2 linked regions of the Homo sapiens genome follow. The protein of the gene in region 1 interacts with the protein of each later gene in a biochemical or structural test. Each region holds a gene or a part of one and is shown on either strand. Other genes may lie near its edges.

The links.
Region 2: the proteins of RLIM (region 1) and SMURF2 form a complex in vitro, tested with the Homo sapiens proteins (one study listed by BioGRID).

The regions. Positions count from the first base shown.
Region 1 is NC_000023.11:74,583,552-74,587,376, reverse strand, and holds part of RLIM (E3 ubiquitin-protein ligase RLIM), read left to right. Parts: 3' UTR 1-3,825. UniProt on the Homo sapiens protein: E3 ubiquitin-protein ligase.
Region 2 is NC_000017.11:64,655,754-64,659,578, reverse strand, and holds part of SMURF2 (E3 ubiquitin-protein ligase SMURF2), read left to right. Parts: intron 1-3,825. UniProt on the Homo sapiens protein: E3 ubiquitin-protein ligase which accepts ubiquitin from an E2 ubiquitin-conjugating enzyme in the form of a thioester and then directly transfers the ubiquitin to targeted substrates.

The sequences.
Region 1 (3,825 bases):
GTCTTATAAGACTATGCTAATTGTTACTTTCTGAAGTATTCTGTACCTTAGTATGCAAGATTGTTAAGGCACATGTTAAAGTGTCAGGTGTGTTTTTTTCCCTTTAATTCTTCAGTATGTTTATATTCAATAACAGTATTGTAATTCATTGAGTTAACTAGTAAATTGTGTGCTTTTGAAAAAACATGAAAAATGTAAATTGACAGCATACTTCATTTGGAAAAAAGTAAAAGATCCGAGGAACTAGTATGTCACTTATTTATTTTTATTTTATTTTATTTTTTACTTTTTGAGACAGGGTCTTGCTCTGTCACCCAGGCTGGAGTGCAGTGGCATGGTCACAGCTCACTGCAGCCTTGACTTCCTGGGCTCAGGTGATTCTCCCACCTCAGCCTTCCAAGTAGCTGGGACTACAGGCATGCACCACATTGCCTGGCTAATTTTTTGTGGAGATGGGGTTTCGCCATGTTGTCCAGGCTGTTCTTGAACTCCTGGGCTCAGGCAATTTGCCTGCCTCATTCTCCCAAAGTGCTGGGATTATAGGCGTGAGCCACTGCGCCCAGCCTTACTTATTTTTAAATCAGATTTTTTAATCAACTAAAACAGCTATGAGTTAAGTACCTGCCCTGCAAAAATTTTTAGAAAAAGTTTTAGGATTATGAAATTAAGAATTATTTTCCTTAACTGGAACAGTTCTAAAATTTATCTGATACTTCTCTAACAAGTGAGTGATCTCATGTAACCCCAGTTTGTATCTTAAAGGCTGCAGCATAGAATTGAGCTGTATAACAGTGTTAGAACTGTCAAGTGATAATCACAGAACAGTTTGTATCGGTTTTATAATTCTCATGTCTTGATCAGATCTGAAGGAAATAGGCATACCCTCCAACATTCTAAAAATTATTTATTTTTATTAGGATTTGTTTATTAAAGTTCCACGAGCTGCTTTATGGTCAGTTGGGCTGAGTAGTAGATATCTTAAAGACATGCAGTGAAAGTGAACCCTGTCATATCATGGTGCCTCTTTCAAGGTTCCTCTGTAAGTTCCTCATCTTGCAGAATTATTTCAATACCAAGGTATGGTTGAACCAGCTGTCCAGCCTTAACTCTATTTAGTGCCCCATTACTAATGTTCTTTTAACTGGTTTGTATGTGTTTTAACTGTCCAGTGTTTGGATTTTACCTCTTGATAGCTCCATTTGTCCCTGGTGCTGCTTTTAAGGATGTAGGGCCATGTGATCAGGTATCAAGTTGAGTAGGTACGCAGTTGGCCTGGTGATGTATCTGTGCCTGTTTTATCTTCTCCCAGGAAGAGCTGCTTTGGTATAGTTGTTTACTTGGATTCATACAAAGAACAGGGCAGCAATCTTGGAAAGCTTTCTGAAGCTTATAAGAACCTGAAGGGGTTTGGAGGGGGAACAGTAACAAAGGCTGCCTTTATGTCTTTGGTCACAAAGCACATAGATGTATGTTCTGTAAAGACTAAAGTGATTGTTATACCAGGGCTTCCTGACCTTCGGGAGAGACTCAAAAAAGCAGAGAGGAGCACAAAGTGAAGTTAATTTGGTTGGCTTGCTTTATCTGGTTTCTCATTTTCTTTCAATTTAAACCTGAACATAACACCCTTCTCCGATACCTATCCAGCAGACTCCTGGTTGGGAAGCCCTGTATTAAATTTTGAGAATGTACACAGTTTTCTTTTGTACAGTGCTTTACAACTGCTAAAAGTTAACTTGTTTAAAGCAAAACAAGACCTTGAAAGGTCAATCATATTAAAGCTGGTTTGATTATTAATAGTTATCTTTTAGGAAGAAGCTTTTTTCCCTATGTAAGATGTCATACTGCAGATTTAAAATATAGACTATCAATAAAATGCATGAAGTGATCATTTGTGCTTGATCATCTCTCCTTGGGTTTTTCTTTAAAAAGGGGAATCTGCTATAAAGGTTCTGTTGCTTCAAACCAATGTCAAATAGACTTGATTTTTAGAGTCATGGAATTACAGTGCAACCTTGATTTTTATTCCCCTCACTGCTATGAGTGTGGGCAGGTACTGGTTTATATGTTATAACTTCCGTTTTATCTGTGTTGTGTAGTTGAATGGCTTAATCGTTGAGTGGTAAAATAAAAGATTATATTCCAATACAAGAATCCTGGAAAGATTTATGTGAATGACATTTTAAGTAGGCGCATCTTTGCTGTTTCTTGTATTCTCGCCATTGCTCTGACCACTCCCTTGCTTGCCCTGTATATATACAAAAACTTGTAGGTGTGCACGTGTGCTTGTACTTCTGTCTTCCATTTCTATCTTAATCTCTTAAACATATTGCTTAAGCCACTAAGATGTCCTTGTTTCAAGTAAATCGTCACATTGTGACACCTGGTGTATTGTATTATAGTTTCATTTCCTCTGGTGCCTGCAGAGCTATCTGTCATTGGCATCATAACTCGGTTTCTCAGGATAGTTTTGATGTAGTCAGCTCTTCAACTCATGACCTTCCCAAGGTTTTAAGTTTAGTGTCATTCATGATTTTATTATTTGAAACTCAATACCACCATCAAAAAGTTAGTGCTCTAGACAATGAAGCCAAAGCACAGGCATCTTAGGTCAGTGAAAAGGATCCAGACATAAATTAGCCAGGTGTGGTGGTACACAGCTGTGGTCCCAGCTACTTGGGAGGCTGAGGTGGTAGAATCACTTGAGCCCGGGAGGTCAAGGCTGCAGTGAGCCATGATCATGCTGATGCACTCCAGCCTGGGTTACAGAGCAAAACCTTGTCTCAAAAAAACCCCCAGATACCTAGAAGAAAGGATTCGATAAATCTGGGTGGATTATAAACTGAACTCTTAATGGTCATTTTAAAAAATAAGAAAGCAAGGGTCCAGTTTCTTTGAGGTCTTTGAATTTAGACAAGATTTAACTATAAGGCCTTGCATGGATTACTAACTATAATTAAATTAGCTAAACTTTTCTGGTTGCTGTCAGGCATTGTATTAAGTATTCTATATAAATTATTTAATCATCACAGTGACTGTGAGGTGAAAGTATACCACCCATTTTATAGGTAATGCAGCTGAGATACAGATGTTTGGTAATTTGCCCAGGTCACATAGTAAGTAGCAGATTATTTGCAATCATCTTTGATGCAGTCATCTTCCTTGTGCTCTTAATCCCACTACTATATGACTTCTAATTTGTTTCTTAGTATTTATCCCAAGCCCTAGACTAGATTGCTTATGAGGTGTGATTTCTTAGGAAAAACATCAGTTTTGGCTGGTTTGCCAAGAAAAAAAAAGGCCAAATTGGTTTTTGTTTATTTTTTTGTTTGTTTGAGATGGATTCTCGCCCTGTCGCCCAGGCTGGAGTGCAATGGTGCGATCTTGGCTCACTGCAACCTCTGCCTCTGGGTTCAAACGATTCTCCTGCCTCAGCCTCCCGAGTAGCTGGGATTACAGGCGCCCGCCACCACGCCCAGCTAATTTTTCTATTTTTAGTAGAGACAGGGTTTCACCATGTTGGCCAGGCTGGTCTTGAACCCCTGATCCCATGATCTGCCCGTCTCGGCCTCCCACAGTGGTGGTATTACAGGCGTGAGCCACCACGCCCGGCCGCAAATTGTTTTTTGTTTTTTTGTTTTTTGGAGGATTAATGGTAATATACTGTAAATTCAGTAAAGCACTGGGCATTACCAGATACACCTTAGCACTATGAATAACATGAACTATCATTTTAGCAGTTTAAGTGTACCTTGTAATCAGCCCTAGGGCAAACGGTATCAAGGTGTTTTATTTCCAGAAGTCTCAAAATAGACTGGAATAAAAATT
Region 2 (3,825 bases), on another chromosome or scaffold:
AGAAGCCAAATAAAATATTTAACCTAGGCCTCATTTTGTTTAAAAAAAAAAAAAAAAAAAAAGTTGATTCTTTGTGAAGACCTTAAGAAATGTTTGGCATACCTTTAGACTAAGTGTTTAACAGTTCATTTAGATCTGGGTTGCCTAATAGAGGAAAAAAAATCACTTAAAAAAAGACAGATCCCACAGTGAATTTATATTTGGTTTACAATACACTTGGGCTATAAGGTGTTTTAAAATTATTGTTCTTTGCTTTAAGTTAATACCATATTAGTATTTTAAATTTATAGAGTACCTTTGATTTCAAGATGCTGTATAAACTTTAGTTACTTGATAATAACTTTATTGTGGAATTGCCCCTTTGCTGAAAGGTATAAACATTTCTTACATGGTGATGCACACACTCACACACACACACTCACACACTCATACACACTCTCTCTGAAGAAGAGGAAATATTTAAGCCATGAGATCTCTGCCCACAATTGATATTAAACCTTTCCACATATTATTCTTAAAACCACAATCAGTGAACTGTTTGGTATTTGTCAATGCTAAGAAGGTGGGGCTAATTTAATAATTTGATCCCAAATTTTAGATTCCTCAGGCAGTTGGGGGTTAGAATCTGATTTCATCCATCAAGCTACTTCTGTTCTTTATGACACATTAACATATGATCATTGAAATGGGCTGTATGGTAACACTATCAACTTCAACTACTGTTTCTATAACATTGATTACAAAATGTATAATGTCTATATCATTATACTTATATCTGATACAGGCTTTTCTTTCAATGGTTTGGATAGAAAAATATTCTTTACAGTAAAAACTTTGGGATAATTTTTTATACCATTATTGTTTCTGAAAACCAAAGGCTGGAAAAAGCAGTTTAGTGTAATTTCTAATATTTTAAATTCTTAGGTATGGAGAAGCAGAATAAGATTACTCCTCCAGAACATTTGTTTCAGACCTTTTTATACATTTAATGTTTTTGTATGCTGCTTCTCATGTTATTAATTTCAAAGCCCTTGGCAATAAGGAGGTTAACCTTGTCTATAATGTAAGGAAGTTTAACTTTAAAAATTTCCCTTTAGATATGCTAGCGTCTTAATCTTGTTTCACTACATATTTTATCGATTCAAGGCTTTAAAAATTGTAGCTTAATTCTATTTCACAGGTTTTTAAGTATGCCTATACATCATAATGACTTTATTTATTTATTTTTTGAGTTGGAGTTTCACTCTTGACTGGAGTTGAAGGGCTTGATCTCGGCCCACTGCAACCTCCACCTCCCGGGTTCAAGTGATTCTCCTGCCTCAGCCTCCCGAGTAGGTGGGATTACAGGCGCCCACCACCACGCCTGGCTGGTTTTTTTTGTATTTTTAGTAGAGACGGGTTTTGCCACGTTGGCCAGGCTGGTCTCAAACTCTGGACCTCAGGTGATCCGCCCGCCTTAGCCTTCCAGTGTGCTGGGATTACAGGCATGAGCCACGGCACCCGGCCCATAATGACTTTATATACTAGAGGTGTTAGTGATTTGAATGTCCCCAATTTGTTTTATTTTCTTGGTTTCTGAGGAGGAAGCCAGTGTAGTTGAGCTCCTTCCTTTTCTTTTAAATTCTGTCTTCTAGTCTGACCCTCTTCAGGCAGGCAGTAGAACATGCCAAGGTCCTTTTTGTAGTTTGGTATTCGTAATAAAGTCTGTGTATTTTAGTCATCACTTTTACTTTTTTCTTGTTGGTTGAGCTATTACTATCACAACATACTAACATCTCATTTAACATAACTCAGTTTTAAAGATAAATGAAGGGTCATGCTTAGGCATACAAGATTTTTATTTTAGCCTTTTTTTTTTTTGAGGCAGAATCTCATTCTGTTGCCCACACTGGAGTGCAGTGGCAACAGCGTGCAGTGAGCAATCCCGGCTTACTGCAGCCTTGACCTCCCGGCTCAGGTGATTTTCCCACCTTGGCTTCCCAACTGGCTGGGACTACAGGTCCATGCCACTGTGACTGGCTGATTTTTTTACCTTTTTTTTTTTTTTCCAGTACAGATGGGGTTTCTCCAGGTTGCCCAGGCTGGTCTTGAACTTCTGTGCTCAGGAGATCCTCCTGCCTCAGCCTTCCAAAGTGCTGGGATTACAGGTGTGAGCCACCATGCCTGGCCTATTTGAGCCTTTTTTGGTGAGAGTCTTAAAGACGTAATATGTCCTCCTCTTTTCAAATAGACCATACTTAGTAGAACTTAATGTTTTATTCATGACTCAGTATAATTATGAATGCCCTCGCCCCTAGCAATACTTGCCCATCTTTTAAGGCTCAACTCAAAGATTACTGTTATCCCTAGAACTTTCCCTGACCTGAGTTGAACTGTCCTCTATGACTCTAAGAAGCTCTTCTAGTACCAGACCTAACCCACTGGTAGGCGTTTATTGTTCCTATGCTTTAAGTGCCATGAAGCCAGCATCCTTGTGTGAGTATGGATTAAGACCTTTTTGGCATTTTATTTAATGAATGCTGGAGAGCTATAAATACTTCCGAATAGTTCTGCATGTGTTCTTTATGGCTAATGCATTGGGTATGAGTGGCAAGAGGTGAGGCTCTAGACAGGGACCAACCTAGTTTGGACCTTACTGTAGTTTGCCAAGATGTTCATTTTTTTTAAGGTGGGGGGAACCATTGCAGGATTTTAAGCTTTAATATATTTGCTGTTTAGACACAATCTGGGAGCAGTATGGAGGATGGACTGGAATGGGAACCATGAAGACTGGTTTTAGGATAACTGGTTAAGCAGATTCAACAGCAACCATCGTTCAGATTTTTTTGTTTGAATGTTTATTTCCAAATTTTTTATTACAAATAATTGCTGTAAACATCTTGGTGTAGGTAACTTTGATTTTTTTTTTAAGGATTCTTTTTTTTTAGGATGCTTCCATAAAAATAGTGTTACTGAGTTCAAGTGTGTGGATATTTTTAAGGTTTCATGAGTAATTTTTCCTTTAGGCTGCTTCTTACAAGAGTTGGACCTATTTAGAGCAGCAGTAAATAAAGATGTCCCTTTTTACTATTCTGTTATAAGTATAAGCTAATTGCATTTTACATTTTTTGCTAATTTCATGGCATGTGCCATTTAAACATTCGTGAAGCAGAATATTTTCCTGTCTGTTTACTAATGATATTTATTTTCATTGACTTGTTTGGCCTTGTCCTAGTTATGTTAGAGCCTTAGTGTTTTTCTTATTGATCTACCTGAGACTTACAAATATATTAACCTGTTGTCATATTTGCTACAAACATTTCCATGATGAATTATTTGTCTTTTAATATTGTTCATTGTTTGGACATGTAGAAATGTGTTATCTTAGGAGTCAAAATCTGTCCAACTTTTGTTTTGTTTTTCCTATTCTATACTTGGAAGAACTTATTCTCCAAGAAGTTTGATAAATAAGTACATTATATTTAATGTTTTTAAAAAATGGTTTAATAAACTATTTCCCCTGCAATTGCTATTTAGCCATCTTGTCATTATTTATTAACCAATTCTTCCTTTCCACAGTGATGTAGTATCTTTTCAGTTATATTAGTTATAGAGTCAGATATAGCTCTTGTTCAGTGCCATACTGTTTTTTTTATTGTAGCTTTATAATTTAGTTTAGTATTCTCACTAGGCCAGTTTTTTAAAGAGACGGAGTCTCACTCTGTCACTCAGGCTAGAGTACAGTGGCGTGATCTTGGCTCACTGGAGCCTCTGACCCCTGGGTTCAAGTGATTCTCCTGCCTCAACCTCCCTAGTAGCTGGGATTACAGGTGCATGCCACCACTC